Linked DNA regions of Homo sapiens. The protein of the gene in region 2 interacts with the protein of the main gene of each other region in a pairwise test. Each region holds a gene or a part of one and is shown on either strand. Other genes may lie near its edges. The genes, in order: DNAJA3 and INPP5J.

The links.
Region 1: the proteins of INPP5J (region 2) and DNAJA3 interact in binary tests that used the Homo sapiens proteins (3 or more experiments, as listed by UniProt).

What each region holds. Positions count from the first base shown.
Region 1 is NC_000016.10:4,420,785-4,436,773, forward strand, and holds the start of DNAJA3 (dnaJ homolog subfamily A member 3, mitochondrial), read left to right. Parts: upstream 1-5,083; 5' UTR 5,084-5,097; coding exon 5,098-5,308; intron 5,309-13,599; coding exon 13,600-13,733; intron 13,734-15,989. UniProt on the Homo sapiens protein: Modulates apoptotic signal transduction or effector structures within the mitochondrial matrix. Affect cytochrome C release from the mitochondria and caspase 3 activation, but not caspase 8 activation.
Region 2 is NC_000022.11:31,117,667-31,133,655, reverse strand, and holds the start of INPP5J (phosphatidylinositol 4,5-bisphosphate 5-phosphatase A), read right to left. Parts: upstream 10,691-15,989; 5' UTR 10,642-10,690; coding exon 10,537-10,641; intron 9,761-10,536; exon of another isoform or gene 9,651-9,760; intron 9,515-9,650; exon of another isoform or gene 9,393-9,514; intron 8,812-9,392; coding exon 7,646-8,811; intron 7,363-7,645; exon of another isoform or gene 7,281-7,362; coding exon 7,167-7,280; intron 7,044-7,166; coding exon 6,935-7,043; intron 6,736-6,934; coding exon 6,619-6,735; intron 6,300-6,618; coding exon 6,124-6,299; intron 5,882-6,123; exon of another isoform or gene 5,706-5,881; coding exon 5,594-5,705; intron 5,443-5,593; coding exon 5,333-5,442; intron 5,186-5,332; coding exon 5,002-5,185; intron 559-5,001; coding exon 421-558; intron 251-420; coding exon 173-250; intron 47-172; coding exon 1-46. UniProt on the Homo sapiens protein: Inositol 5-phosphatase, which converts inositol 1,4,5-trisphosphate to inositol 1,4-bisphosphate.

The DNA.
Region 1 (15,989 bases), on a different chromosome or scaffold from region 2:
CTCAACCAGCAGCATCCCCCCAACCCCCATTTCTCCTAAGTTTTGGGCTCCCCGTGAGTAAGTAACTCTGTCTGAGTTCTTAGTATCCTCAGTGCTTAGTACAGCCTGGCACATGGGGCCAACACAGATTGAGCAATGGCTACGCATCAAGTACTATAGGAAGCCTTTACATGATTATGTCACTCAGATGACCCTTTGAGGACATTACTATTTTTTGTTTTGCTTTATTTTGAGACAGAGTCTTGCTGTGTTGTGCAGGCTGGAATGCAGTGGCGTGATCTCGGCTCACTGCAACCTCCGCCTCCCAGGTTCAAGTGATTCTCCTGCCTCAGTCTCCCCAGTAACTGGGACTACAGGTGCGCGCCACCACGCCTGGTGAAATTTTTTTTTTTTTTTTTTTTGAGGAAGAGTCTCACTGTTGCCCAGGCTGGAGTGCAGTGGTGCAATCTCAGCTCACTGCAGCCTCCACCCCCTGGGTTCAAGTGATTCCCATGCCTCAGCCTCCAAAGTAGCTGGGATTATAGGCACGTGCCGCTGTGCCCGGCTCATTTTTGTATTTTTGTAGTGACAGGGTTTCACCAAGTGGCCCAGGCTGGTCTTGAACTCCTGACCTCAGGTGATCCACCTGCCTCGGCCTCCCAAAGTGCTAGGATTACAGGCGTGAGCCACCACACCCGGCAATTTTTGTACTCTTTAGTACAGATGGGGTTTCACCATGTTGGCCAGGCTGCTCTTGAACCTCAGGTGATCCCCCCACCTCGGCCTCCCAAAGTGCTGAGATTACAGGCGTGAGCCACCACGCCTGGCCGACGTCGTTACTATTAAGTCCTCATTTATTTATTTGACATATGGTCTCCATTTGTCACCCAGGCTGGAGTGCGGTGGCACAATCATGGCCCATTGCAGCCTCAGCCTCCCAGACTCAAGCAATCCTCCCACCTCAGCCTCTCAAAATGCTGGGATTACAGGTGTGAGCCACCGTGCCTGGCCTATGTCCCCATTCTAGAGAAAAGGAAACAGAAGAACAGAGTGAAGTAAGTTGCCCAAGGACACACAGCTGGTAAGTGGCACAGCTAGAATTCAATCCCAGGCTGTCTGACTCCAGAGCTATACTCTTTTTTTTTTTTTTTTTTTTTTTTTTTTTGAGAAAGTGTCTTGCTCTGTTGCTCAGGCTGCAATGCAGTGGCACTATCATAGCTCACTGTAGACTTGAACTCCTGGACTGAAGTGGTCCTCCCACCTTGGCCTCCCAAATAACTGGGACCACAAGCATGCGCCACCATGCCCGGCCAATTAAAAAATTTTTTTTTGTAAAGATGAGGTCTTGCTATGTTGCCAAGGCTGGTCTTGAACTTCTGGGCCCAAGTGATTCTCCTGCCTTGGCCTCCCAAGGTGCAGGGATTGACAGGCATGAGCCACCATGCCTAGCACAGAACCCATACTCTTTTTCTCTTTATTTTTGAGACAGAGCCTCACTCTGTCGCCCAGGCTGGAGTGCAGTGCCGCAATCTTGGCTCACTGCAACCTCCATCTCCTTGATTCAAGCAATTCTCCTGCCTCAGCCTCCCGAGTAGCTGGGATTATAGGCGCCTACCATCACGCCCGGCTAACTTTTGTATTTTCAGTAGAGACGAGGTTTCTCCATGTTGGCCAGGCTAGTCTCCAACACCTGACCTCAGGTGATCCGCCCGCCTCAGCCTCCCAAAATGCTAGGATTACAGGTGTGAGCCACCGCGCCTGGCCACAGAACCCATACTCTTTTTTTGTTTGAGACGGAGTTTTGATCTTGTTGCCCAGGCTGGAGTGCAGTGGCGCGATCTTGGTTCACTGCAACCTCTGCCTTCTGGGTTCAAGCGATTTTCCTGCCTCAGCCTCCCCAGTAGCTGGAAATACAGGCATGTGCCACCATACCTGGCTAATTTTTGTATTTTTAGTAGAGACGGGGTTTAACTATGTTGGCCAGACTGGTCTTGAACTCCTGACGCTGTGATCTGCCCTCCTCGGCCTCCCAGAGCGCTGGGATTACAGGCATGAGCCACCGCGCCCAGTCAGAACCCGTATCTTTTTTTTTTGAGACAAAGTCTCACTCTGTCACCCAGGCTGGAGTACAGTGGCACTATCTCAGCTCACTGCAACCTCCGCCTCCCGGGTTCAAGCAATTCTCCTGCCTCAGCCTCCCGAGTAGCTGGGATTACAGGCGCCTGCCACCATTCCCGGCTAATTTTTGTATTTTTAGTAGAGACAGGGTTTCATCGTGTTGGCCAGGCTGGTCTTGAACTCCTGACCTCAGGTGATCCGCCCGCCTCAGCCTCCCAGAGTGCTGGGATTACAGGCGTGAGCCATTGTGCCTGGCCCAGAACCCATACTCTTCATCACTATGCTGGTCATTTAAGTATTTGCTGAATGTATTAAAGGAACTCTTGCTCACCTCCCAACACCCTTGTTCATCTCAGTCCTCCCCATTCCGTAGCCCAAACTCTCTCCAACTATTACTTGCAATTTACAATAGCTTGGTCACTGTTCTTCAAAGGACTGGTGGTTTTATTTATTTATTTATTATTATTATTTTTTTTTGAGAGGGAGTTTCACTCTTGTTGCCCAGGCTGGAGTGCAATGGCGCGATCTCGGCTCACCGCAACCTCCGCCTCCTGGGTTCAAGCAATTCTCCTGCCTCAGCTTCCCGAGTAGCTGGGATTACAGGCATGCGCCACCACATCCAGCTAATTTTGTATTTTTAGTAGAGACAGGGTTTCTCCATGTTGGTCAGGCTAGTCTCGAACTGCTGACCTTAGGTGATCCGCCTGCCTCAGCCTCCCAGAGTGCTGGGATTACAGGCGTGAGCCACCGTGCCTGGCAGGACCGGTGGTTTTTAATCTTCGAGTCTCAATGCCTGTGGAGAATTTGACGAAAGCTATGGGTATCTACCCAAATTAACATCCACGTACACAAAAATTTGGTGTACAATGCTGGGAGTAGCGGGGAGGGGGAGTAGCACAGATTCCCAGGCTTTGGGGATGGGGGTGAAGATTTATGAGCACAGTTTGTTTTAAATCCAAACAAGAATCCTCAGGTTTTTTCCCCATTGCTTGAGGTGGTTATGATGGTGGGAGTGTGAAAATTGAAAGTCCTTTGCAAGACTAACCAGGTCAGGTCTCCCTTCCTAGCCTCATCTCATCACATACTTTTTTTTTTTGAGACAGAGTTTCGCTCTTTTTGCCCAGGCTGGAGTGCAATGGCGTGATCTCGGCTCACTGCAACCTCCACCTTCCGGGTTCAAGCCATTCTCCTGCCTCAGCCTCCGGAGTAGCTGGGATTACAGGCATGCGCCACCACGCCCGGCTAATTTTGTATTTTTAGTAGAGACGGGGTTTCTCCATGTTGGTCAGGCTGGTCTCGAACTCCGGACCTCAGGTGATCCGCCCGCCTCGGCCTCCCAAAGTGCTGGGATTACAGGCGTGAGCCACTGCGCCCGGCCACCACTTCTTTTCTTTTTTTTTTTTTTTTTGAGATGGAGTTTCTCTTGCCCAGGCTGGAGTGCAGTGGCGCGATCTTGGCTCACTGCAACCTCCGCCTCCTGGGTTCAAGCGAGTCTCCTGCCTCAGCCTCCCGAGGAGCTGGGATTACAGGTGCGTGCTACCATGACTGGCTAATTTTTGTATTTTTCGTAGAGACGGGGTTTCACCATGTTGGCCAGGCTGGTCTGGCACTCCTGACCTCGTGATCCGCCGGCACCTCGGCCTCCCAAAATGCTGGAATTACAGGCGTGAGTCACCGCGACCGGCCTCATCACATACTCTTAAATTTAGGGTTTAAGCAAAGAAGGCAAACACTTTCATATCTTAGACATTTGTTTCTTAAGTTCAGGCTACTTGGAATACTCCATCCCTACCTGACACACTTTTCATCGATGTTCAGTTTGAATCTTACCTCTTAGAAGCCCTGACATCCCAAACTTCCTCTCTCCCATTTTAGAAATGGAATGACTCCTTCACCTTGTATGACTGTAACAGTGCTTATTCCTGTGATAGCATTTAACATTGTTAGTTGCTAAGGAGCCTCTCTCGAGTCATTGTTTGCTCCTCCCGAACAGGGATGGTGTATCAGGCATCACTGTATCCCCGATATTCTAGAACATGCATGACACACAGTAGGCGCTCACAAGTTTTACTAATTTAGTTTTTGGGCAGCACGGCTCCCATTCGGAACCAGCAAGTTCACTGCAGGTTTGGAGAAGGCTAACACGCTTAAGGAGAGAGCTGAGGTCGGCGCGGTGGCTCTCGCCTGTAATCCCAGCACTCTGGGAGGCCGAGACGGGTGGATCACGAGGTCAGGAGTTCAAGACCCAGCCTGGCCAAGATGGTGAAACCCCGTCTCTACTAAAAATACAAAAAAATTAGCCGGGCGCGGTGGCGCGCGCCTGTAATCCCTGCTACTCGGGAGACTGAGGCAGAGAATTGCTTGAACCCGGGAGGAGGAGGTTGCAGTGAGTTGAGATCGCGCCACTGCACTCCAGCCTGGCGACAGAGCGAGACTCTCTGTCAAAAAAAAAAAAAAGAAAAAAAGGAGAACTGAGTCTTGTTAGAGGAGGCGGGTGGGGAATCAGCCTAAGAGACAGTGAGACTGCGGCCAGGATTCTGAGGGTGGCGACGAAGATTTACTAGAAGCGCGCGGAGACGGCATGAGTAAAACTCACGCAATTCGTCGTAAGTCTCAGGGTCAGCAGGAGGAAACCACGCACTACATGCTGGGAGCGGCGCGACGGAGGACCGCGTTGTATGCTGGGACTTGTAGTCTCGCCCTTAGCCAGACCCCTCGGACCACTTAAGTTCGGCTACATTCAACCACGTCCTTACACCGATAACGTACACCCATTGGTTGTCTAGCACAGAATAGCGAGGTTCTGCACGGCGAGTCTACCTAACAACACTCTTCAGAGCAAACCCCGTTTCGGCGATGGCTACCCGGAAGGCGCGTTGGCTGCGGCTACGCGTACGGTGCGCCTGCGCGTGCGCGACGCATGCGCCTCTACGCGCGCCCGCCGTTCCCGCGAGGCCCACCTAGAGCCGGGCGGCGCAGGCGCAGAGTCCCCGGGCCAAGATGGCTGCGCGGTGCTCCACACGCTGGTTGCTGGTGGTTGTGGGGACCCCGCGGCTGCCGGCTATATCGGGTAGAGGGGCCCGGCCGCCCAGGGAGGGCGTGGTGGGGGCATGGCTGAGCCGCAAGCTGAGCGTCCCCGCCTTTGCGTCTTCCCTGACCTCTTGCGGCCCCCGAGCGCTGCTGACATTGAGACCTGGTGTCAGCCTTACAGGTGAGGGCAGGTTCCAACTTCCGAGTGGCGGTTTCAGGGCCTAGAAAAGAGTGAGTCTCCTCGCTGTGACTACGGCTGCAGGGGTAGTGGGGTGGAGGGTGTCTTCCGACGCGGATGCACAATTGCCGGAGACACAGACAGGCAGGAGGCGGGGAGGCCCCAGTGGCTGCTCAGCCGTCAAGGAAGGGAGAGAAGCGTGGAGCCCCCGGCGGCGGTGATGAAACGCCCCGTAGATCGTGAACCTTCACCTCTCTGTCAACATTTCTGGAGGCCGCTGCTCCCTCGTCCTCTTCCTTTCCCATCTCTCCACCTTCTAGCCCGTAGCGGAAGGGAAGAGCTAACTGCCATTCGGAGAGGCCTAGGTACTTTGTTACAACAACCCTGCAAGATGCCTGCCGTCATCACCATTTTAAAGAATGAGAAACTGAGATTCAACGGAGGAATCGACCAGCCCAAGGTCATGGAGTTAGACTAGAAGAGTTGTCTCAAACCCAAAGCAGTCATGTCATAGTTTACGCTCTTTCTACCACGTGGTGCTAATTGAAGGGCACAGTTAACAATCTTTTTAGAAGTCTTTAGTTGGTGATTGTAATAATAACACAGTCAGACATTTATTGAGCACTTACTGTTGGCCAGGCATGGTTTTCCCCTTACATCACATTTCCACATGATAGGCACTGTTATTCCATTTTATAAAGATACTGAGGCTTAGATGTTAAACCACTTATAAATGTCACAAGGAGGTGGAGGCTTGATATCATTGCCTGAGATGACACTGAATTATACATTAAGCCTTGAAGTGCTTAGTCATGTTTTCTTTTCTTTTCTTTTCTTTTTTTTTTTGAAACTGAATCTTGCTCTGTTGCCCAGGCCGGAGTGCAGTGGCTCAATCTCGACTCACTGCAACCTCCGACTCCTGGGTTCAAGAGATTATCCTGCCTCAGCCTCCCCAGTAGCTGGAACTAGAGGCATGCGCCACCACGCCTGGCCAATTTTTGTATCTTTAATAGAGACGGGATTTCGCCATGTTGGCCAGGCTGGTCTCAAACTCCAGACCTCAGGTGATCCGCCTCCCCTTGGCTTCCCAAAGTGCTGGGATTACAGGCGTGAACCACCGTGCCCTGCTTAGCCTTCTTTTCTTATGCCGTGTGTTTTGTGCTGTGTGTTGTACGTACCTGAATTGTGCTAGTTTTGTGTCCTCTAGAATTTGTGCAAATGGTATTTAAGCTATCTATAAATTTATAAAGATTAATTAAAGGGCCCTGACAAGATAATTTATACCAACTAACTTCCTGTTGCAATCCAGTTTGTAATAGTTACATAGTAGACAATCATTAAAGTATCAGTAATTGTGGTTACTTCATGCAATGTAAAGAAAAGAGCCTGGGCTTCAGGGGTGAACTTCCCCAGCGTCTGTGAGCGGGGTGTATTATTTAACCCCTTCGAGCACCTGTCTGAAAATTCATTCATTCACAGGTGTTAATTGAGGCCAATTGTATGCCAGCCACTGTTCTGGGCACTGAGGAGATGGCAGAGAACAAAGAGATTGGATGTGTGTTTGGTTAAGAGAATGATTATTTATGTATTTAATTATTTTTTAAGACAGGGCCTCCTGTTGCCCAGACTGGTGCAGAGGCACAATTACAACTCAGTGCAACCTTGACCTCCCAGGTTCAATCGATCCTCCATCCTCAGCCTCCTGAGTAGCTGGGACTACAGGCATGCACCACCACACCCAGCTAGTTTTCTGTAGATGGGGTTTCACCATGTTACCCAGGCTGGGCTAAAGTGATTCCCTTGCTTCAGCTTCCCAAAGTGCTGGGGTTACAGGCATCAGCCACTGCACCTGGCCAACAGAATGAATTTTTTTTTTTTTTGAGACGGAGTCTCGCTGTGTTGCCCAGGCTGGAGTGCAGTGGCGCTATCTCAGCTCACTGCAAGCTCCGCCTCCCGGGTTCACGCCATTCTCCTGCCTCAGCCTTCTGAGTAGCTGGGACTACAGGCGCCCGCCACCACGCCCAGCTAATTTTTTGTATTTTTAGTAGAGACAGGGTTTCACCGTGTTAGCCAAGATGGTCTCGATCTCCTGAACTTGTGATCCACCCGCCTCAGCCTCCCAAAGTGCTGGAATTACAGGCTTGAGCCACCGCGACCGGCCTTATTTTTATTTTGAGATGGACTCTTGCTCTGTTGCCCAGGCCAAATTGCAGTGATGTGATCCTGGCTCACTTCAGCCTCCCAAGATGCTGGGCTTATAGGTGTGTGCCACCATGCCAGGCTAGATTTTTCAACATGAGCAAAAGTGGCCATTTTTAGAGCTTGCTAACATTTTCTAATGTCAAGGTTGTTTTAAATAGAATCTGGCTGCATCTTTTCATTCAAATATTAATCCTTAGGTGACTTGTTTTATTAAGCCAAATTTGTTCATGTTCCAGCTGTACAAATTTGGGAGCACTCGTTATTATTGTGTATGTGAAAGAGAGAAACAGGCACTAAACACTAAGCTTTGTGTGAAGCTGTGACTAAGGAACTGCGGTTAGCTGTCTTGTTCCCCAAGTGAGCTCATAACCTGCCATGGGCAAGTTTTATATCAGGTAGTGTACACAGGTGAGAGGTGGCATCCTTCAGGGTACGTGCTGTTTTCACAGATAGAGTCATCAACTGGTTGGGCGGGGTGGCTCACGACTGTAATTCCAGCGCTATGCTGGCGCTGAGGCAGGAGGATCACATGAGCCTAGCAGTTTGGGACCAGCCTGGGCAACATAGGCAGATCCCATCTCTACAAAAAGATTTTTTTTTTTTTTTTTTTTTTTTGAGACGGAGTCTCACTCTGTCGCCCAGGCTGGAGTGCAGTGGCACGATCTCGGCTCACTGCAAACTCCGCCTCCCGGGTTCAGGCCATTCTCCTGCCTCAGCCTCCCGAGTAGCTGGGACTACAGGCACCTGCAACCGCGCCCAGCTAATTTTTTGTATTTTTAGTAGAGATGGAGTTTCACTGTGTTAGCCAGGACGTCTCGATCTCCTGACCTCGTGATCCACCCGCCTCCGCCTCCCAAAGTGCTGGGATTACAGGTGTGAGCCACCGCGCCCGGCCAAGATTTTTTTTGTTTGTTTGTTTGAGACGGAGTCTTGCTCTGTAGCCAGGCTGGAGTGCAGTGGTGCGATCTCGGCTCACCATGATCTTGACTCACCGTGATCTCGGCTCACCGCATCCTCCGCTTCCTGGGTTCAAGTGATCCTCTTGCCTCAGTCTCCTGAGTAGCTGGGACTACAGGCACGTGCCACCACTCCCAGTTAATTTTTGTATTTTTAGCAGATACTGGATTTCACCATATTGGCCAGGATGGTCTCGATCTCTTTACCCATGATCTGTCCACCTCAGCCTCCTAAAGTGCTGGGATTACAGGTGTGAGTCACCGCGCCCGGCCTACAAAAAGATTTTTAAAAATTAGCTGACTGTGGCCGGACATGGTGGCTCACGCCTGTAATCCCAGCACTTTGGGAGGCCTATGCGGGCGGATCACCTGAAGTCAGGAGTTTGAGACCAGCCTGATCAACATGGAGAAACCCCGTCTCTACAAAAAATACAAAATTAGCCAGGCCTGGTGGCGCATGCCTGTAAACCCGGGTACTCGGGAGGCTGGGGCAGGAGAATTGCTTGAACGTGAAAGTCGGAGGTTGCCGTGAGCCGAGTTAGCGCCATTGCACTCCAGCCTGATCAACAAGAGCGAAACTGTGTCTCAAAAAAAAAAAAATTAGCCAACTATGGTGGCAACTGCCTGTACTCCCAGCTGCTTGGGAGGCTGAGGTGGGAGTTTCACTTGAGCCCAGAAGGTTGAGGCTGCAGTGAGCCATGATGATGCCACTGCACTCCAGCCTGGGCAACAGAGTATGACTCTTTCTCTACCAAAAAATTAATAAAGTCATCAACTGAGAAGCCATGTGGTGGCGAGCCTCTATAGTCCTAGCTACTCAGGAGGTTGAGGTGGGAGGATTGCTGGAGTCCAGGAATTTGAATTTGGCCTAGGCAACATAATGAGACCCCTGTCTCTTAAAAAAAAAAATTTTGAAAAGGTCATTAACTCAGCGTCCAAACACTAGTCTGTGATCTTGTCTCAAATCTAGTAGTAAGATGACATAACAACATTTTAGATGTGACTTTTCTTCCAAGCAGAAAGAAAGCAGTTGTTGGTGGCCAGGTATGGTGGCTCATGCCTGCAATCCCATTACTTTGGGAGGTGGGTTGATCGCCTGAGGTCAGGAGTTTGAGACCAGCCTGGCCAAGATGGCCAAAGCTTGTCTCTACTAAAAATAGAAAAAGTTGGTCAGGCGTGGTGGCGGGTTCCTGTAATCCCAGCTACTCGGGAGGCTGAGACAGGAGAATCGCTTGAACCCAGGAGGCAGAGGTTGCAGTGAGCCGAGATCGCGCCACTGCCCTCCAGCCTGGGCAACAAGAGCCAAACTCCCTGTCAAAAAAAAAAAAAAAGAAAGCAGTTGTTGGACAGTGGGTTGGCCATTCTTAGAACGACTTGGAGGCTTATTTTATTCTGGGTTGTTCTAAAAAGGACAGGACATTTACTGGTCATATGTGATAAAATAAATAGTCTATTAAATGAAATCTAATTATTGTTAATCATTGATGCCCTATGGATAATGTCAAAAGTCATCAGACTGGGGATGGTGGCTCATGCCTGTAACCCCAGCACTTTGGTAGGATGAGGCCGGCGGATCACTTGAGGTCAGGAGTTCGAGACCAGCCTGGCCAACATGGTGAAACTTCTTACCTACTAAAAATACAAAAATTAGCCAGGTGTGGTGGTGTGCGCCTATAGTCCTGGCTACTTGAGAGGCTAAAGCAGAAGAATCGCTCGAACCTGGGAGATGGAGGTTGCAGTGAACCGAGATCACACCACTGCACTCCAGCCTGGGTGACAGAGTGAGACTCTGTCTCAAAAAAAGAAAAAACAAAGCCATCAGTCTTGTAATTAAACGTGATTTGTCTTTATCCACATGCAGTTTTGTGCGTTACTATCTCTGTACTAACTCCTGTCCGTGTTCTCTGCCCGTAATGTTGAAGCCACAGCTGCCACAGGTCACTACCAGCCTCCGCCTTGTGGCATTGGAATGAGTGGTGAGAGAGAGGCTGGACTGGGCCGGGCAACCCCTTACTCCGAAATAAAAAGAGGGTTGAGTACAAGTTCAATAATAAGTCAGGTCTAGTGTTTTCTCAAGTCTGACTGAAGAAACACAAAGTGGTCTCCTGACCCCTACTACTTCCAGTGTGCTTTTTGTATCCCGAGGATATTGGGTGTGCCAAACACACGGATTTATTTCCTATTTCTAATTTTAAGTATCCTGACCATTCCTATCCATTCTCCTGTCTGATCATCCTTTACCTGGCCTCCTACTTGGATGTGCTCAACCAACCTCTGGTTGTGTTTTGTGCTGATTAACTTCGAGTAGTCTCCCAGGCTTCCTAGAGTTGTTTCTCTTTTTTTTTTTTCAGGTGGAGTCTTGCTCTGTCGCCCAGGCTGGAGTGCAATGGCGCGATCTTGGCTCACTGCAACCTCAGCCTCCCAGGTTCAAACAATTCTCATGCCTCAGCCTCCCAAGTAGCTGGGATTACAGGCGTGCACCACCATGACCGGCTAATTTTTGTATTTTTAGTAGAGACAAGATTTCACCATGTTGGCCAGCTTGGTCTCGAACTCCTGACCTCAAGTGATCCACCCGCCTCGGCCTCCCAAAGTGCTGGGATTACAATAGGCGTGAGCCACCTTGCCTGGCCTAGAGTTGTTTCTCATGCAAACCTAATGGGTTCTTTGTTTAACATTTGCAGTGGCTCCCTATTGCTCTTAGGATAAAATCCAGACTCCTTAGCATAGCTCTAAGGCCCTTCCTATTCCTAGGCCCCATTAATCGTTATCATCTCTAACCACCACTACCACCACTGCCATCTAGTTTAGTTATAGGTATAAATCTGTATGGATTCAAAGTCCTCTTTAGCCTATTTCTGTCTCTCTCTCTTTTTTTTCCATGTCATAAGTTTATTTACAAACATCTAGTATGTCATATAAGTTCAAGTCTTTGATCCATTTATTTATTTATTTTTAATAGAGACAGGGTCTCTGTGTTGCCCAGGCTGGTTTCGAACTCCTGGGCTCAAGCGATCCTCACGCCTCAGGTTCCCAAAGTGCTGGGATTACAGGCGAGAGCCACTGTGCCCAGGCTTATTTTTCTTTCTTTTTTTTTTTCTTTTTTTTTTCTGTGATGGAGTTTCACTCCTGTTGCCCAGGCTGGAGTGCAATGGCGCGATCTTGGCTCACTGCAACCTCTGCCCCCCAGGTTCAAGCGATTCTCTTGCTTCAGCCTCCTTACTAGCTGGGATTACAGGCATGTACCACCACATCCGGCTAATTTTGTATTTTTAGTAGAGATGGGGTTTCTCCATGTTGGTCAGGCTGGTCTCTAACTCCTGACCTCAGGTGATCCGCCCGCCTTGGCCTCCCAAAGTGCTGGGATTACAGGCAGGAGCCACCATACCCGGCCCGGCTTATTCACTTTTTAAACAGATTTCATCTATTAAAACACCTCCAGTCTGGGCGTGGTGGCACACGCCTGTAGTCCCAGTTACTTGGGAGGCTGAGGCAGGAGAGTCGCTTGAACCCAGCAGGCGGAGGTTGCAGTGAGCCAAAATCGCACCACTGCACGCCAGTCTGGGCAAGAAGAGCGAAACTCCGTCTCAAAAAACAAAGAAACAAAAAGCCTGCCGGGCACGGTGGCTCACGCCGGTAATCCCAGCACTTTGGGAGGTCGAGGCAGGCGGATCATGAGGTCAGGAGATCGAGACCATCCTGGCTAACACGGCGAAACCCCGTCTCTACTAAAAATATGAAAAAATTAGCCGAGTGTGGTGGCAGGCGCCCGTAGTCCCAGCTACTTGGGAGGCTGAGGCAGGAGAATGGCGTGAACCCGGGAAGTGGAGCTTGCAGTGAGCCAGGATGGCGCCACTGCACTCCAGCCTGGGCGACAGAGCGAGACTCCATCTCAAAAAACAAAAAACCTGCTCTTCCTATCTGTTAAGTGGATGAACTAAAACATCCTTGTTTCTTAAGCAGTTGGTGTCTTGCTATTAAAAAAGGTGCTGTGAATCCAGATCCAAAGTACAAAGTCATCCTAGTTAGTAACCGCCATTTGTTTTCCACTGAAAGTGGCAAATGCTTTCCTGGGCAGCTTAGCCAGTTTCTGCAGCTTAACAGCTGATGCCTAGAAGTTCTTCCCCGACCTTCTTAGATTGATTTGTCATTGGTTCTCAGCAGGGGACACTTTTACTTCCCAGGGGACATTTGGCAATGCCTGGAGACGGGGAGTTCTCTACTGGCATCTAGTGGGTGGAGACCTCCTGAGTTTCTGGTGAATGTCTGGAGTAGGGCTTGAACATCTGTGTTTTCATCAGTCTAATGATGCTGTTGGTCCAGGGAGCGCAGTCTTGAGAACTGCTCCTTAAGTAGATACCCAAGGCTGCAAGATAGAGGGAAAAGAATGTGGGGAGTTGTTAAGCATTAAATGTGACAGAAAAATATGAAAATATGAAAATACCTAGCAAATGGTAAGTGCTCATGTGGCATAAGAGGGGGGAGCTGAATCCCTTTTTAATCATCTCCCAGTCAGGAGTATTATTCCTTTAGTGGTTTACTGAGACCACTCCAGTAGTATAAGCGAGGAGAATCAGCCTCATCCAATACTCTGACATAGTTTAATATTAATTGAATACTGTGGCTTCCTTAGCCATTATTGAAGTGCATTAGGGAACAGCCCTAAAGCTGTAGCCTGTGTATTAGTCTGTTCTCATGCAGCTAATAAAGACATACCTAAGACTGGGTAAATTTTAAAGGAAAGAGGTTTATTTAACTCACAGTTCAGCACGGCTGGGGAGGCCTCAGCGATCGTGGCGGAAGGGGAAGCAAACACATCCTTCTTAACATGGCAGCAGGAAGAATGAGCAAAAGGGTGAGCCCCTCATAAAACTATCAGATCTCATGAGAACTTACTATCGCGAGACCAGCATGGAGGTAACCGCTCCTGTGATTCAGTTACCTCCCATCAGGTCCCTCCCATGACACGTGGGGATTATGGGAACTAAAATTCTAGTTGAGATCTGGGTGGGGACACAGCCAAACCTTATCAGTTTGTTTGTTCCTTCACAGATATAGCCTGGTGGGTCATGTACTCACAGTTTTCTTTTGTTGAGAACATTCCCAGAGTGATTTTCTTTGTTTTTTCCTTTTTAGGAACAAAACATAACCCTTTCATTTGTACTGCCTCCTTCCACACGAGTGCCCCTTTGGCCAAAGAAGATTATTATCAGATATTAGGAGTGCCTCGAAATGCCAGCCAGAAAGAGATCAAGAAAGCCTATTATCAGGTCTGTATGGAAGTCAGGTTTTGGTGACCAAATTGTAGTAGGAATGTTGTTGATCCCATGTGATCCTGATCAGTACAGCGTATGTGCCCATATGAATAGGTCTCATGAGCTGATAGTATAGAAGGGTGTGATAAAGCTGGACTTTGCTAGACTGTTTTTCGATGCACAATGCTGTAGAGGTTGGTGCTTCAGAAAAAAGAGGTGAGTCCAAACCAGAGATTTTAAGAAGTTTTTTTTTCTAGAGCTGTTTTCATAATTAAATTTAATCTGTATTTTCTGAATCAGTAGATATGCTAGTCTAAGTTTTAGGTAGTTATTTTTTGCATCCAGATAAAAGTTTAGAGGTTTAGAATTACTTCCTTTCCTTTCTTTTTTTTTTTTTTTTTTTTTTTTTTTTGAGATGGAGTCTCACTCCATTGCTGAGGCTGGAGTGCAGTGGCGCAATCTTGGCTCACTGCAACCTCTGCCTCCTGGGTTCAAGCAGTTCTCCTGTGTCCGCCTCCCAAGTAGCTGGGACTATAGGCACCTGCCACCACACCCGGCTAATTTTTTTTGTATTTTTAGTAGAGACGCGGTTTCACTTTGTTGGTCAGGCTGGTCTTAAACTCCTGACCTCAGGTGATCCACCTGCCTCAGCCTCCCAAAGTGCTGGGATTACAGGCGTGAGCCACCGCGCCTGGCCCTTTCTTAACCTGGAAAATGTGAAATTCCCATTGTATCCCAGGGTCTATTAGGGTAGTTAGGGTAGCTGAGTAAAGTTGTATACGAGATGTCTACACCACTGGTTCCTAGACCCTTGGTTTGCTCTGACCAACAAAATAAAATCAATATTGGAGGCACCATTGTAGGATTGACAGCTTTTTATAAGTGCACAGTTCACTGGAGTTGTGCACCTGTCACCACAGTCAACTTTAGGACATTTTCATTACCTCGAAAAGAAACTCTGTATTCATTAGCACTCCCCTTCCATTGTCCTCTCTCCCCGGTCCCTAGCAGCTGCTAATCTGCGTCCTGCCTCTTTGGATTTGCCTATTCTCAATATTCATATACAGGGAATCATACAATATGTATCCTTTTGTGTGTCTTGGCTTCTTTCATTCACATAATGTTTTCAGGGTTCATCTGTGTTATAGTTTGTGTCAATACTTCATCCCTTTTTATGGTCAAATAATCTGTTGCATGGATTAATCACATTTTGTTTATTCATCGTTTGATGGACATTTGGATATTTTCCACTTTTTGCTATCATGAACAGTGCTGCTATATAGACATTCATATGTAAGTTTTTGTGTAGACATGTTTTCAGTTCTCTTGGATATTTAGGAGTATAGTTGCTGAGTCATATGGTAACTGGATGTTTAACCTTTTGAGAAGCTGCCAGCCTTTTTCAAAGCAGCTGCACCATTTTACATTCCCACCAGCAGCATATGAGGGCCATGATTTCTCCACATCCCAGTGAACACTTAACTATTATCGTCTGTCTTTTTAATTACGACCCTAGTGAATAAGAAATGCTATCTCGTTAGAGTTTCGATTTGCTTTTTCCCTGATGACTAATGATGGTGAGCATCTTTCTTGTGCATGTTGGCTATTAGTATGTCTTTGGAGAAACGTGTGTTTGGATCCATTGCCCACTTTTAACTGGGTTGTCTTTTTTTTTTAATTGGGTTGTAATGGAATGAACAGAGGCATGGGGACAGGAAGCAGAGATCCTGGCCTGTGAAGAGCGAATGGCCTGTCTCTTCCTGAGCTCAAGAGTCAGGTGCCTGATCCAAGAGTGGGAAAAGATTGAAAAGATGGAGGCTGGGTTGGACTCACATGACAGTTGATTTGAGGCCCTTAGTAAGTCCCAGAGACATAATTTAAGAGAAAGACTTAATTTAGAGAACCATTCAGATTTTTAGGCACGGAAGTAAAAAGATCAGGTAAAGCTGTAGCAATTACTGTATTTTATTTACCTACAAAAATAATTGAAACAGCAGAGACGTCTATTTATTCAGTCATTTTCTTCCCTTTTTAAAAATTTTTTCTTTTTTCAGACAGAGTCTCGCCGTGTGGCTCAGGCTGGAGTGCAGTGGTGCAGTCTTGGCTCACTGCAACCTCTGTCTCCTGGGCTCAAGCAATTCTCCTGCCTCAGCCTCCCGAGTACCTGTGTTTATAGGCGCGTGTGACCATACCTGGCTAATTTTTGTATTTTTAGTAGAGATGGGGTTTCGCCATGTTGGCCAGGCTGTTCTCAAACTCCTGACCTCTGGT
Region 2 (15,989 bases):
TGAAGTCTCCATGGCCCTTGGGCAGTGATTCCTCACTGAATGTTACCTGGTAGGCCCAGGGGTATAAGCCTAAGTTGGGGGTCAGGGAGGCCACCTGAGAGCCCCCAAGGTGAGTTCTGAGGTCCCAAAGGCAACAAGGACTTGCCCTGACTCTCCCACTCCTTTTAAGTACCTGGTAGGTATTCCCATCCACATCTTCATGTTTGGCCCAGACATAAGCCACATAGTCCTTGCAATGGCGGAAACCCACCTGGGGGATCAGTGTTGTGGAATCAGTGTTGTGACCCTATAATGTCTGATCCCAGCAGTCTCCCAGTGTGGCATCAAGATCTGGACAAGCCAGTGACCCCACCATGCTGTTCAGCTGCTCCTCCAGGCCCCTTTCTTCCCTGAGTCGCTGACCACCACTGCCCCTCTCACCCGGTATAAGCCGATCCAGTCCCAGGAGCTGCGGGCGAACACTGTTTCCATGCGGTACCTCACCACCGCCTGCTCGGGCCGCACCCACTCATCTGCCACCTCCAGCCGCACCAGTGGCATGTCGTCCCTGAAGGCAAACTGTCCAGGCAAGGCAGGGGCAGGGGGCCACATCAGGGGAGACCCTCTAGTATCCCACACACTTAAGGCTCTTGGGTCTTAGCACAAATTGCCTGAGACAAAGGGCCACTTTACAGACTGGGAAACTGAGGCAGAACAGGTCTAGTATAAATACCAAGCCCTGTGCTGCCTCCCAGCCCAGGGTTCCTTCTGCCCACAGCCTCCTTAGGGAGTGAGTGAGAACATAGCTTTGAAGCTAGCAAATCCTGGATTTGGCTCTGGTTCTGCCGTTGACAGGCTGGGTGAGTTCCTCAGCCTCTCTGAATGCCAGGGCCCTCATCTGTAAACTCAGAGACTCTTTTTTTTTTTTTTCTTTTTCTGAGATGGAGTCTCGCTCTGTCACCCAGGCTGGAGTGCAGTGGTGCAATCTCGGCTCACTGCAACCTCCACCTCCCGGGTTCAAGTGATTCTCCTGTCTCAGCCTCCCCAGTAGCTGAGACCACAGGTACCGCCATCACGCCTGGCTAATTTTTGTATTTTTAGTAGAGGCAGCGTTTCACCATGTTGGCCAGGCTGTTCTTGAACTCCTGACCTCAAATGATCCACCCACCTCAGCCTCCCAAAGTGCTGGGATTATAGGCATGAGCCACCGTGCCCGGCCAAACTCAGAGACTCTTATTTTACTCTTGGAGTTGTTCAGCAGATTCAGTGAGACACCATTTGCAAAGCATCCCATAAATTTCCCAGTATACCAGTAAGTGCTCAATAAATGATTTGTCTCTATGCTAGCAAGGAAGACCAATAAAATCCTATGATGCACTGGGTATTTGGGGTAAGCTGAATATTCCTGAGCAGGCAAGAAGAGCTCTGCGTGGGAGGATGGAGACCTCAGTCCACTTCCAGGCTCTACTGCTAACTCGCTATGTTACCCCAGGGCAGGCTCTAACCATCCCAAGGTTCAGTTTCTCCAACTGAGTCTAAGTACTAAGCGGTTACTAACTATTACCTTGTCATCAGTCCATGAAGGAAAGTTATAACCACGAGTATCCTTTCCCCAAGGTCAACCCAGACCCACCAGGGGCGCCACCTGAATGGGTGGAGCTGCTGAGGTGGCAGGCTGCCAGGATATTGACCCCACCTCTGTCCCTCAGGGAAGGACTGAGTTGTTGCCAACACCAGATCTTTGTCTGATCCCCTGTTTACCTAGTTTCAGGTTTCCCTCCCTCAGCTTCCGAGCCAATCTGTTCCAGAAGTAACTGGCACATTCTTTCCCTGTTCCTGTGTTCCTAACAGCAGGGGCGGGCAAGGGTAGACCTTTGAAAATGCCCTCCAAGGCCTTGCAGCATCAAAACCCCTACTGAGCCCTATTCTGACTGCATTGCCTTGGCTAAGAGACTTAAGTTCTCTGAGCCTCAGTTTCCCTCACCAGTAAAACAGAGAGGAAAACTGGGACATCTCAGGGCCTACTGAGGCATTCAAAAGGATGACATATGTAAAGTGCACTACACAGGCCTGGCATGTAGTAGGTACTCAATGGGAATTTTTTTTTTTTTTTTGAGACAGAGTCTCGCTCTGTAGCCCAGGCTGGAGTGCAGTGGTGCCATCTCAACTCACTGCAACCTCCGCCTCCCGGGTTCAAGCAATTCCTCTACCTCAGCCTCCCGAGTAGCTAGGACTACAGGTGCGCACCACCACACCCAGGTAATTTTTGTATTTTTAGTAGAGAGAGGGTTTCACTGTGTTGGCCAGGCTGGTCTCGAACTCCTGACCTAGTGATCCGTCTGCCTCAGCCTCCCAAAGTGCTGGGATTACAGGCGTGAGCCACTGCACCTGGTTGGGAAATGTTTTTAAAGGGACAGAGTCCTGGAGGAGGTGGGAAGGACAGGATGGGGTGTCAAAAGGAGTGATTTTTCAGGTGAGGTCCCTAATTGTGGGTTAAATCTTCATGCCCAACACTTTTGCCAGAGGTCATGGCAGGCCAAGCGTGGGGATATTTCCATTCCCAGCTAAAGATATTGGCCAATGTCCCACTGACTGGCCATGTGACAAAGTTACCAGGAAAAACATTTTCTGGCCTGCTGGGCTCCCTCTTATCAGATCAAGAGACTTGAAGAGCCCAGAGTTGGGTTTCAGGGCTGAAAAGATGGGATCTACCCTGCTCTGCCACTGCAGAGCCTGTGTATGGTTTGGGGCATGTGCCTACCCCATGAGGAGCCTCAGATCCCGCCACAGAAAAAAAGGGAGTGGGCCAAATTGGTCTCACAGGTCTGGTTCTGAGATTCTAGGATTTCCCATTTTGATGTCGGCAACCAGGAACCTCAATCCTAAATACAATATAAATTATAGTAACTACTTAAGAGTTCAGCTTTGTATTTTTTATATCTTTGCTCTCCCTCCCCATCACTACACACTCTCATAATGCTTGGCATATGGTAAGACAGTTAAGTACTCAGTAAATAACGAATGAATGAATATGAATGAATGTTACATGGAGTTTGATTTTGCTGGTCTTATTATATATGTGAATTTTTATATCTTTTCTTTGTTATTTTTAAGACACTAGTAGTGAAAATGATGATGCATATGTGAATTTTTTTTTTTTTTTGAGACAAGGTCTTGCTCTGTTGCCTGGGCTGGAGTGCAGTGGTACGATCACAGCTCACAGCAGACTAGATCTTCCAAGCTCCAGTGATCTTCCCACCTCAGCCTCATAAATAGCTGGGAATACAGGTGTGCACCACCTAGCTAAATTTTATTTTTATTTTTATTTTTTCCCTGAGACACAGTCTTGCTCATGTCACCCAGGCTGGAGTGCAGTGGCACGATACTGGCTCACTGCAACCTCTGCCTCCCAGGTTCAAGTGATTCTTGTGCCTCAGCCTCCCAAGCAACTGGGATTACAGGCATGCACCACTGCGCCAGGCTAATTTTTGTATTTTTAGTAGAGATGGGTTTCGCCATGTTGGCCAGGCTGGTCTCAAACTCCTGGCCTCATGTGATCCGCCCACATCAGCCTCCCAAAGTGCTGGGATTACAGGCGTGAGCCACTGCGCTCGGCCTTTTTTTGATTTTTTTTAAAGACAGTGTCTCACTGTGTTGCTCAGGCCGGTCTTAAACTCCTGAGCTGAAGTGATCCTTCCACCTCAGCCTCTCAAAGTGTTGAGATTACAGGTGTGAGCCACTGCGCCAGCCTATAAATGAATTTTAAGATAAATTACTCTAAACCTTTCTCAGAAGACAGGAGTTAGAGATTAGCAGAAAAGGCACGGGCTCTAAGGCTGGGTGTGGTGGCTCACACCTTGTAATCCCAGCACTTTGGGAGGCCGAGGTGGGCAGATCACCGGAGGTCAGGAGTTCGAGACCAGCCTGGCCAACATGGCAAAACCCCATCTCTACTAAATACAAAAATTAGCCAGGCGTGGTGGCGGGCAGCTGTAATCCCAGTTACTCAGGAGGCTGAGGCAGGAGAATCACTTGAACCCAGGAGGTAGAGGTTGCAGTGAGCCGAGACCACGCCACTGCACTCCAGCCTGGGCAACAGAGTGAGACTGCATTAAAAAAAAAAAAAAAAAAAAAGGGCGCCGGGCACAGTGGCTCATGCCTGTAATCTTAGCACTTTGGGAGGCTGAGGTGGGTGGATCACCTGAGGTCAGCAGTTCAAGACCAGCCTGGCCAACACGGTGAAACCCTGTCTCTACTAAAATACAAAAATTAGCCGGGCATGACGGCGGGTGCCTGTAATCCCAGCTACTTGGGAGGCTGAGACGGGAGAATCGCTTGGACCCAGGAGATGGTGGTTGCAGTGAGCCAAGATTGTGCCACTGCACTCCAGCCTGGGGCGGCTGAGCAAGACTCCGTCTCAAAGAAAAAAAAAAAAAAAAAAAAAGTTGGCCAGACACGGTAGCTCACGCCTGTAATCCCAGCACTTTGGGAGGCCAAGGTGGGTGGATCAGGAGGTCAGGAGTTCAAGACCAGCCTGGCCAACATGGTGAAACCCTGTCTCCACTAAAAATACAAAAATTAGCCTGGCGTGGTGGCGGGTGATGTAATCCCAGCTACTCAGGAGGCTGAGGCAGGAGAATCACTTGAACCCGGGAGGCGGAGCTTGCAGTGAGCTAAGATCGTGCCACTGCACTCCAGCCTGGGTGACAGAATGAGACTCTGTCTCAAAAAAAAAAAAAAAAAAAAAAAGAAAAGGCATGGGCTCTGAAACCAGACTCACTTGGGTTCAAATCCTAACTGTTCCTCTTACTAGTTGGGTGACCCTGGGCAGGTGATGCCATGTGTCTGAGCCTCAGCTTCCTCATCTGAAAATGTAGATTGCAACCCCATTTCCACTGTTACAACAAATGGATGCTGCTGAGGGCAGGTACAAGGGGTTATACAAAGGGTAATGGTGAGGGGCAGTGGTATGCCGAGTTGGGCCTGGGGATTTCATGCGGGGAGGATGAGGCCAGAACTCACCTGCAGGAGGAACTGGGCAGCCACAGGCTTGTGGTCGCTGACTGTGTATTCCATGTGGCTGCGGTAGCTGTGCTGCGTCACCTGGAGTCGGTGGCTCTTCCGTCCTGAGGGGCTGGGACCCCCACCTGGAGCCTTGACCTTCCATAGGATACGGTCTGTCCAAGCTGGCTTCCGTTTCTTGGCACTGCAGTGAGCAGGGGTACCCCAAGTTTCAGGGGCTGGGGATCAAGATGTAACCCTCCACCTTGCCTCCTGCCCCTCTTCCCAAAGTCTCCCTGTTCGAGAAGACCTCAGCCCACTTCCCCTCAGTCCCTCCTCGGACTGAGCTCACCTGGTATCGTATTTGTTGGTACCCACATCAAACTTGAAGGTGGGAGCGAAGTTGAGGGGCCCCTCCTGAAAGCCCTTCAGAATGGGCCAGGTGTTCTTGGCCATGTTGAGCTGTGGGGGGTCCAGGAGAGCAGATTGGACAACAGCTTGGGCTCTGCTGTGCCCAGGGAGGGGGTGGGGCAGGTGAGGACAGGGACCATAGTCTAAGGTACAGGCGTGTCCTGGGACATGCTCTGTGTGCTTCTGGGGACAAGGACCCCACCTGGTCCTTCTCCCAGAGCTGATGGAGCTGGTCACTGTCGATGGCAAACTTGACAAAGTGCAGGTCATAGCTCTCAATGCGGAAGTTCAGGTCCCCGAACCAGAACACGAGGCTGTTTGGGGTGGGGGATGGGAGAGATGTGGGGGGCAGTGGGGGGTGTCAACAGGTCCATGGAGGATAAGGGCTCAGCCCAGATCCTTCCAGCCCATCCAACCCGAGGGGATGTAGTGAGTGGGTGAGTGGTGCCAGAGCCTCCAGCCCACCAAAGGGCAGAGGAAAAGCAGAGGGACCGGTCTACAGGAAATTAGGTTCTGACCTTCAGCAAGGCGGGGCCCCTCAGCAAAGCTCCACCCTACAAGCTCCGCCCCTCCCCATCCAACTGCTCTCTGCTTTCGTGTTCCTACAACTAGTTTGGGTGGGCACTAAACCCCATAGGCCCTGCCTCTCTCCATAAGCCCCACCCAAGGTGGTACAAAAACCCCCATCACTAGCCCCACCCAAGCTCTATTTGGCCCCACCCCAGCCCATACTCATGATCCAGGATGCCCTGTGCGCCCGGCCCTTGGAACTGCTGGAGGCTGAGGATGGTCTGGAAGTTGTCTTTGCGCTGCTCCGCCTTGTCCATATGCGCAGGCAAGTGGCAGTTCAGGAAGCAGAGCATGTGCCCGAAGGCCGCCAGGCGCACGCTCACGCCACCCTTGTTACCCTAGGGAGGCAGGGTCGGATGGCTCATGGGCGGGGCTTAGGCCAGGAGGTGAGGCACTGGGAGCGGGGGTTAGAGAGGAGATGTGGGTGGAAGGTGGGTGGGTCCTACAGAAATGAGGAACAACGCTGGGACACAGTGGGGAGAGAAAAGGGCGGGGGTATAGAGGAATAGGATGGGGTATTGGGTGGTGCATGGGGGGGCTGGGCCGCAGGGTAAAGGGTGGAGGATGGGAAGGGGACCTTGCTGTGCATGGGGCGGGGGGACTAATCTAAAGCCCCCTTCATGTCCCATCCTCTTCTGGGCCTGCTCACAGGCTCACCCAGTAGCCGCCCAGGCCAGTGCGCGTGCAGTCGGTCTGCACGTCTCGCAGGAAGGGCAGGTGGTAGTACTTGGCGAACAGCAGCAGGATGACACCCTGCATCCTCACCGAACTCACCTGCAGCGGGAGGCCACGTGGCTGGGGGACAGAACACAACTCCCCCGCCCTCGCGCCCACCTTCAGGTCTGCTCCTCCACCCACCCATGTCACGGACCCAGCCACAGAGGCCCAGCGGGCCCCACAGTGAGCCAGGGTACAGCTGGAGCCAGGAATTCAGCAGGGTCTCTGGCTGTCCAGGGGGTGAGGGGTGCGTTACCAGCACGAAGTTGAAGGGCCCTAGCGCATCCATGAACAGCTCACTCCACTGGTCCGTGAAGAGGGCGTCCTTGAGTCGCTTGTTGAGCATGGAGTTCACTTCCTGCAACCTGGAGGGGTGGGGGCAGGGTGGCCATGGGATTGGAGAGGTGCCCTGGAAGCCCCTGCCATGGGTGGAGGGCCCGGAAGGCCCGAGGGGCTCAGGAGGGGGTCCACATGCCCTGCCACCTCACCCTATGGCGATCATGTCTGCGCCGTCGCTGTCGTCACCACCGCCCAGGTGGAGGAGGGATGTGACATCGTCTGGGGGCATGGCAGTGCCCACGTTCCATGTGACCACAGTGATCCTGAGGGCAGGGGCATATGAGGGTGTAGTCCTGGCACCACTCCCTCACCCTCAAGCTTCCTTTCACAGGACTCCCTGGGGAACTAAATGGAGGCAGGTGTGGGCCAAAGCCCTAAGAAGGACCCACAGGAGGCCCCGAATCCTGTCCCTCTGCCACACTCTCCCTGGGGAGATCAACTGAGAGGCGGCAAGTTCCTTAGGAGGGGATGCTATCTTCTGAGCGTCACAGAGTGGGCCCAGCAACCCCCTCCCCAAAGACTCTTCCTCAGAGAGAGAAGCTGAGGTAGAGCACACCATCCACCCTGGAAGAATGGCTAACCTCAGAGCTAAGCCCCAGCCACCTTTCTTGGGAGAGGGCCCCCTCACCGGAAGCCGGGGTCGCTCTTCCAGGTAGGCTGAGCTGACCAAGGGGAGGATGACAGGGTGGATGTAGAAGAGGAGGTGGTGACTGGGGCTGGGGCTTCTTGGGCCTGAAGGTTGGGGCTCAGGCACCTGCCAGGCCCTGTACTCTGTGTGCCAAGCCTTGGGAGGGCCATGTCAGGGGCTGGGGGAACACAGGGAGAGCGATTCGGGGAGTGGCTTGGGGAACGGCTGGGTGATCGGGGTGGCTTGGGCAGAGGTGGGGGCACAGTCTGGCCTGAGGGGGCCCCAGGCCGGAAGGTGGGGGACAGAAGTCCAGGGGAGTGAGTGCCAGGCTCTGAAGGACCCTGGCCCACATCCAAGGGCAAGGTCTGGGGTGGCCGTGGCAAAACAGGATCCTCAGGGCTGCTGTGGAGGGCCTCAGGCCGGGCTCGGAAGGAGGGGGAGAGCCGAGGGTCTGGGGAGGTTTGGATGCAGGGTGGGGAGCCTGTAGGACCAGATGTCTGAGCTGGAGGCTGGAGATGCCCCTCAGAAGCAGGGAGAGGTCTAGGGGCTGGGGCATCCCTCTTTCTAGCTGATGTCTGTCCCACAGAGGCTGCGCCTGATGCCGTGGATGCTGGAGCCAGGGCCTGTTCCTGAGTTGGAGACAGAACTGGACTGGGCACCGGGGAAGGGGTGGAGGGGAGTTCTGGGGGCTGCTCCTCAGAAGCCAGGGCCAGGCTCAGGCCAGAGGCTGCCAGTGTTGGCTTGGGTCCCACGGAGGCAGGTGGCTCCTGCTTCTGGTCTCTGGAGGTTGGGGCCAGATTGGGCCCCAGGGTGACTGGGGGAGATCTTGGCCCTGCTGAGGCAGGCATCACCAGCCCCAGGGACGTCGGAGCCAGAACTGAGCCTGTGGTCGCTGGGGGAGGCTTTGGTCCAGCTGAGGCAGACATCACCAGCTGGCCCACAGATGTTGGGGCCAGGCTGGAGCTGCGGTGGGCAGTAGCTGTTTTCTGCCCTTCAGGGGTACACAGTGGAGCCAGGATTGGTCGGGGAGATGCCAGAGCCAGCCTCGGTCCTTCCGAGGAAGCTGACATAGCTGCCCGTGGCCCTACAGGTGCCAGAGCCAACCTTGGTTCCGAGGGTCCTAGGGCTGCGTTCTTCTTTGCTGGGAGCTGAAAACTTGAGTCCACCTTGTGGAGGACAAGTCAAAGATTCAGAGTGACCCTAACCAGGGCATTGGGCCCCAACTTCCATATAGACCCTGGCAGAGTTCATCTAGCTAAGAAAGGCACATCTTTCCAAGGAAGTTCTTCCTACTATCTCACTTCAATCTATTCTGCTGCAGGTCAACTTCTGTCTTGGAGGAGATAGGACACAAAACCCTAACCCCTCCTTTAAGTCTGAAACCTCTTTCACAGATGGGGAAACTCAGACCCTGACTCAAATGAGGCAGAGTGTGAACCTAAACCTGAGGACTTGCCTTGCCTTCCTGGCTGGCACCCACACCCTGCCCATTCGGGGCAGCTTCCCTGGGCAACCCTCCCACTGCAGTCCCTGAAGCTCCCCCAGCCACGGCTACTGACCTGACATCCCAGGTCTGGGCACACTGGGGACAGCCTGTTTCTTTTCTTTTTCTATTGTCAAGATACAGACCTACAGGTGCAGCTTGTTAAATACCTCTCCCTTCCTTCATAATGCCCAGAAACCCTCAGTTCCCCACCGCCCCCTAAACATCCAAATCCCTTGGTTACAGCCCTCTCTGTTCTCTTACCCATTCCCAGAGCTCCACTCAGGAGCAAGAGCTGGGAGCTGAGACTGGCTGTGTAGATTCAAAGCCCAGCTCTGTGTGACCTTAGGCAAGTACCTCTCTGCCCAGCGCCTCAGTTTCTCTGTCTGTAAAATGAAGGGATGGGGTCTAGGGTTCCTGGCCACATTATATTCTGGGGAATCTTCATCTCCCATTGTCTGCATTTATGAGCCCAACATTTGCTAGAATTCCATCTAGCCCCGTTGAATAGTCCATCCTCACCAAGTGTGAATCTAGCATTCAGAGCAAGTCCAGGATTCTAAGTTGATCCTGGTGTCACATCTCTCTGTGCCCAGGTTGTGCCCTCTTACATCCTCCACTTTCTCCCCTACCTGAAAGGACAGGCAAGCAGGTATCCCATTTATGTCCGGCAGGTGGGAGGGGTGGGGAGTCACGGAGTCCTGTAGAGACCTATCCTCCTTCCCCATCTATTCTCTCTGATGTCCCCTGTCTCCAGAAGACAGGATAAAGTGTCCTTCACCAAGGAGGGCAGAAGAATGTCTATACTTGCCCCAGGATGGCCCTAGGTAGGGTAACAGGGCGCAGGGAGGCCCTGCCTCTGGAGACGCACTTCTGTTTCTGTCCCGTATCCTTCTCAGTTCAGAGTACCTAAAACTCCATCTCCACCTCCCTTCTCAAACTCAGTTCTTTGAGGTGGCATTTTAGGCACCCTCCTTGGCTCCAAGTGTCACACTGTGTGCCGGCTTCCCCCCAACTATCACACCGCCTCCAGTACTAACAACTTAGCCATCCCAGATGTCACAGTTTTAGTCTTCAGCGACAAGCCCCCTCATTTTGCATTGGCTCAGAGAGGAAAAGCAACTTGGCCAAGGTCACACAGCAAAGGTGGAGCACAGCTGGGTCCTCTGATACCCAGTCCAGGACTCTCCCAAGGGCTCCTGGAGATGGCTAACTTCATCTGTCTCCGGGCATCCTGTCACTGCCCCTCAGCCCCCAGGGTGCTCTCTTCACCTAGCCCCTGCTCGCTGAGCAGAGGAAAGTACCAGCCCCTCAGTCAGGAGCACCAGGGAGCCTGCAGTGTATGTGGGGGGGGTGTGTGGAACCAGGGATCAGGAAAGCGGGGGGCACTGGGTCTCAGGGGTCTTACCTTGGAGGGTGCCCCAGTTTGGGCAACACCCTGGGGCATGGGCAGGGAACCCAGGCCAGCCCGGGTCCCTGGCCTCCTGCTGCCCCTGCTGCTCTGGCCCTCCATGTCTGCAGCCCCCGGCAGCCTGGACTCCCTTGGCTCCGGCTCCAGCTCTACCGCTCCCGGGAACCAGTGATGTCATCAGCCATTTCAACCTGCTGAGAATTTAAAGGCACAGGCTCCCACTTCCCAGCCTGGAAGAGGCCGAAGCAAGGTGGCTACCCCCTGGGAATCCTTCAAACTGGCTGCTGAGGCTGGAACAGCCATGGAGTGGGGAGGGGAGAGTGTACCCATCTGCCTGGCCCAGGTCCCAACTGGCAGCAGGAAGGAGGCTGTCTGTCTACCTTCACCTTTCTGCCGTAGGCCTGGTCAGCCCTTTGCTCCAGGGAGGGGCATTAACACACCTGCCTTAAGGTAGGACAGGTGGTTCAGAGGTCTGCACCCTCTCCAGGGCCTCAGAGACAACTGAGTTCTTGCCCTGATCCTGTGACCTTCCTGGCTCCCTGCCAGCTCAGAGCTTGCCCCGGCCCCCACCCTTGCCCCATTTTCAGGTCTTGGTGCCACCCTCTCCACTCCTACTGCCAGTCCCAGGCTCTATTCTTCCCAACCCAGAACCAGACACTCAGGCTCCAGCCACTGCAGTCTTTTCCCATCTCAGGCCTCAGCACCAGCCCCTCCTCTTCTGCAGACACCTAGCTGCCCTCAGATGTCCCCACAGCCAGGCCTAACCCAGCCCGGCTTCTGTCAGCTTTCTTCTCTCCAGTATTCACTGGGTGTGGTTTGGGAGGGGAACTTGCTCAAGGTCACCTGGTGAACTGAGAAGGTCTCCTGTGTTTCAGTGAGAAAACTTAGTGACCTAGGATGAGCACAAGCCCTTCGAGCTATCTGGGGGAAGGGAACTTGGGTGGAGAAGGGCCCAGCAGTGGGGTAACAGACTGACAAGAGAGTTACAAACAGGCCTGAGAATTGCTACAGCCAGGACCCAGCCCAGGACATGGTCCCCAACAGGCCTACGGGAGTGTTTGTTGAATGAATAAATGAATTAGAAGAGTGAATGGGTGATGAGGGTCAGATTGGGCTGGGATGGCTGTGGGATCTGTTTCTCATGGCTTAGAGAGGAGTGATCCCACCCACTTTAGGCAGAAAGTGTTCAGAGTTGTGTGTGCAGAGCTCCCTGTTAACCAACATGGAGCATCTGCATGGGCCTGTGCAGTCTCCTACATGAAGGCAGATGCCTCACTTTCCTCTCCTGAAGGCACTTCCTACCTCTGCTTGACTGTCAGTAGGTCTAGTCTGTATTCTCAGGCCAGCATCTCTGCTGGAATTTGCAGGGGCAGAGACTCAGGCCATATTAGAGTGTTGGGGTAGAAAGGTCTTTGGACAGCGATAGTGGAGATGGTGACAGTGGTGACGGGGAAGGCGACTGTGGTGATGGATGTGATGATGTATGTAACTGTGATGATGGAAGTAGGGGGCTAGCAGTGGTTGTGGTGAAGGTGGTGGAGGTGATGGTGATGGCAAAGGTAGAGGTGATGATGATACCAATACTGATGATGGTGTTGTGTCAATGAAAGAGGTAGTGTTGGAGTTGGAGGTGACAGTCAGGGAGGATGTGAGAGTAGACCTGGTGGTGATGCTCAGGTTACCAGAAAAAGGAAGATTCGAACTCATCCTGTCTTATCCTCTGTCTCCTGTTTTACAAATAAGAAAATGGGAGCCCCCGGGCTGGGGGAGTACTGGCAAAGTGCGGGTAATCCCAGCACTTTGGGAGGCTGAGGTGGGCAGATCACCTGAGGTCAGGAGTTCGAGACCAGCCTGGTCAACATGGCGAAACCCCATCTCCACTAAAAATATAAAAATGAGCCGGGTGTGGTGGTACATGCCTGTAGTCTCAGCGACTTGGGAGGCTGAGACAGGAGAATTGTTTGAACCTGGGAGGTGGAGGTGGAGGTTGCAATGAGCCAAGATCGTACCACTGCACTCCAGCCTGGGTGACAGAGAGAGGCCCTGTCTCAAAAAAAAAAAAAAAAAGAAAGAAAGAAAAGAAAAAAGAAAAAGAAAATGGGAGCCCCCAAGACTACCCAGCTTTTCATGCAATCCTAGAGGGAATGATGGGCAGATCCAGGCCTCTGGGACCAGTCCTAAGGCTCAGCCATCTAGGGCTGGGACAGGGGCATCAGTGCCCTTTGGAAGCCAGGCAAATGTCATGCAAATGTGTCTGCAGAGGGCTCCTCTGCCTCAGGAGGGCAACCCAGGATTTCCCACCACCCGCTCCCTGAGCTCAGACCCTGCAGGGGACTTTGTTTCTGGCCCTGCCACTGACTTACTTGAGGAGGTCACTCTGATTCCCAATTTGTGTAAGGGAGATTAAAACAGCAGACACCTCCTAAGTTTGCTGGTGAAGATTCAACAGGATAATATATATGAAATGTTTAGCATAGAGCCTGCCTGGCACAGCAAGCTCTCCATAAAGGTGGCTGCTCTGTATTTATCATCATCATCATCACCACCATTGACTTCAGCCTGCCCATGTGGTGGATGCTGAAACAGGCTGAGGGTGGTTACTCTCCTGGGAGGACAAGGAAGGGGCTCTGAGACCCAAGCCTGGTCTTGTCAGGAGAAGGGGGTAGGGGGCGGACCCCAGCTGAAAAGGGAGTGAGTTGGAGCTATATTTGAGCTCCTGGTGTGATGACTAAGGAGGTTGATAACAGGCTCTGGGGCTCAGGGCGGCAGGCTGGGGGCAGCTGTCAGGGAGAACCGCCCCCCTGGAGACGGCTGTCTCTGGAGGCCCTTTCTGGCTCCCTCCTTGCCCTCACTCTTGGTGGGGGAGGGGGGTGGGCGTACTGAGGCAGGGTCCAGGGCTCATCCAGCCCACTCCTGGAAACTCAGTGCTGTCCTTCAGGCTGTGTGGGTCAGGGATAGGAAGGCAGGATGCCAGTGATAGATGGAGTATCCCAGTTACTCTCCATAGTAACCCTGTGAGGTTGGTAATGAGGCCCCCATTGGACAGAGGAAGAAACCGAGGCCCAGGGATTACACAGCCAGTAGAGAGAGGACAGAGCATGGAGCTCCTGGAGAGGCAGTGGATAATTCTTCCCGACAGAGGAGCTGACTGTTGAACCCCTTCTTTGAAGGAGAGTCCGTGCTGCCAAATCGAAGAAGAGAAACGCCCTGGCTGGAAAGCAGAGAGAACAGCAGGTACAAAGCATGGATGGGGAAGGAAGGTTCTGGCTGTGAAAGGATGAGAAATTTGGACATGTACCCTCCTGCCCTTTGGTTCGGAGTAAACATGAGCAGGGAAGGGAGAGAAGTCTTTCCTGTCTTTTTCCTCCTCCTCTTCCTCGGTTCACTTTCCAGGGGCACCTGAGGATGGCAACGGTACCGAGGGTCTGTCCTCCTTCCTTTCTCTCCCTGGTCACCCTGACCCAGGCCCGCCATGAGGGAGGTCATGCTATGGCTACCATCTGCAAAGGTGTAGAGGGTGATACAGGATATTGTGGGAATGTGAAAGAAGGGGTTATCTGGGAGGGCTTCCCTGAGGAGGAAGTATACAGGGCACAAAAGAGCATTTCTTCTCCCAAGGCTTCACTCCAGGGTTTCTTGTTGGTAACAAGCTTCACATGTTATGTCCCCAGCACTTCATTCTCACCCTCTGAGGCAGATGTCATCCTCACTCCCCATTCTGCCACTCAGGAAATGGGCTGGAGGAGGAGGAGTGACTTTCCCAAGGTCACACAGCTGGGGCTGAGCTCAGGCCTCTCTCCTCCTTCTCTTCGGCTCCCCCTCCTCCTAGGCAGCCCAGCACCCGCTGTCAGCTGCTCTGAAGTGAGTGGCTATTTTTATTCTGGTGCGAGGGGATCTCAAGCAGCAGAGCCATGTAGGTTAGAGGCTCTAGGACACCCGGCCTCAGCAGTCCAGGGGAAACTTCCTGCAGCCACCAGACCCTGCTAAGCTTGCCTGGGGGCTCTCATTTCTTGCAGACTGACTTGCTCTGGGCTCCTATGCCTCCAGAAGCTTCTTTATTGGAGCTCAGAACAGAGCATAGAGCCAGATTAAGCCCTGGTCATGGTCCTGATCCTCCAACTTGAACCCGACTCTTGGTATTGACTAAGCCTCTACTCCAGCTCTTGACTGAGCTCTGACATCACCTTAGAATGAACCCTGACTCTAGTCACATACTGATCTAAGCCTGAATTAGGCTGATCCCAACTTGAGACCTTAGTTCTGGGCCCAGATCAAGCCCTTATCCTTCTCTAAGACTGAGCCTTAGTCACAGACTGAATTCTAGCCCCAGCCCAGACTAACCTTTTAGACTGACTCTGGCAGAAGAGTCAGACTAACCTTTTAACCCTGACTCTGGCAGAAGACTGAGCCCTAATCTTGGTCAAAGACTGAGTCCTGAGCCTAATCATTGACTGAACTCTGACCACAGACTGAATTCTGACCCTGGATCATGCAATTCTGGTCACACACTGAGCCCTAAACGGAAGACTGTGCCCTGAATCTGGTCACAGACTGAGCCCTGAACTTAGTCATTGACAGAGACATGACCCTGGTCACAGACTGAGCCTGGCTCCTGGTCACAGACTAAAGACTAAGCCCAATCATGGACTGAGCCCTGTATCTAGCCCTAGGCTACAGACTACTCAACTAAGGGCTGACCTAGACCCTGTCTGAGCCTGACCCCATCACAGACTAATCCCCAACCTTGGCCCCACTTGAGGAAGACTGCTGGCCTAAATTACATGCTGCCACATAAGAGGCATGGATTATGGGCAGAGATCTGTCTTGGGAGATCTTGGGCTTCTCATGCTGCTGATGCCACAGTGTTCCTTCCTGGTACTGTTATGGTCACAGTCTCCACCACTGGTTCCACTGGCTGGTTGGTCAACCCTCAGCAGCCCAAGCTGTGGCCTTTAGGGGCCACAGCATCCAGGCTAATGCAATGAGAGTGGTTTGGTGGCATCTGTCCAGCAAACAACCAGGGCCCATGGGGTACTGGGGTTTGGCTCTGTCAGCAGCAAGAACGACTCCGTGGGGCCTCTGGCTTCAGTTACTCTGAGGCCCTTGCTGGGGTAGGGGTTGGAGTAGAAGGAAATAGTGGGGTATGTCCCATTATTTTCGTAAATAAAGTTTACTGTTTGTGTTTAGGTAATCCATGCCCATTACACAAAACACAGAAGGAAAACATTTACCTATAATTTCATCCACCAAGAAATAATCGTTCTGACTTATTGGTTTGTTTCCTTATAGATATTTTTTGGTGGGGGCGGGGGTCTAGGCATATATATTTATATATACATGTTGTATATAATATGCATATATATTTATATACATGTTGTATATAATATGCATATATATTTATATACATGTATATTTACATATACGTGTTATATATTTTATATAGCTATATC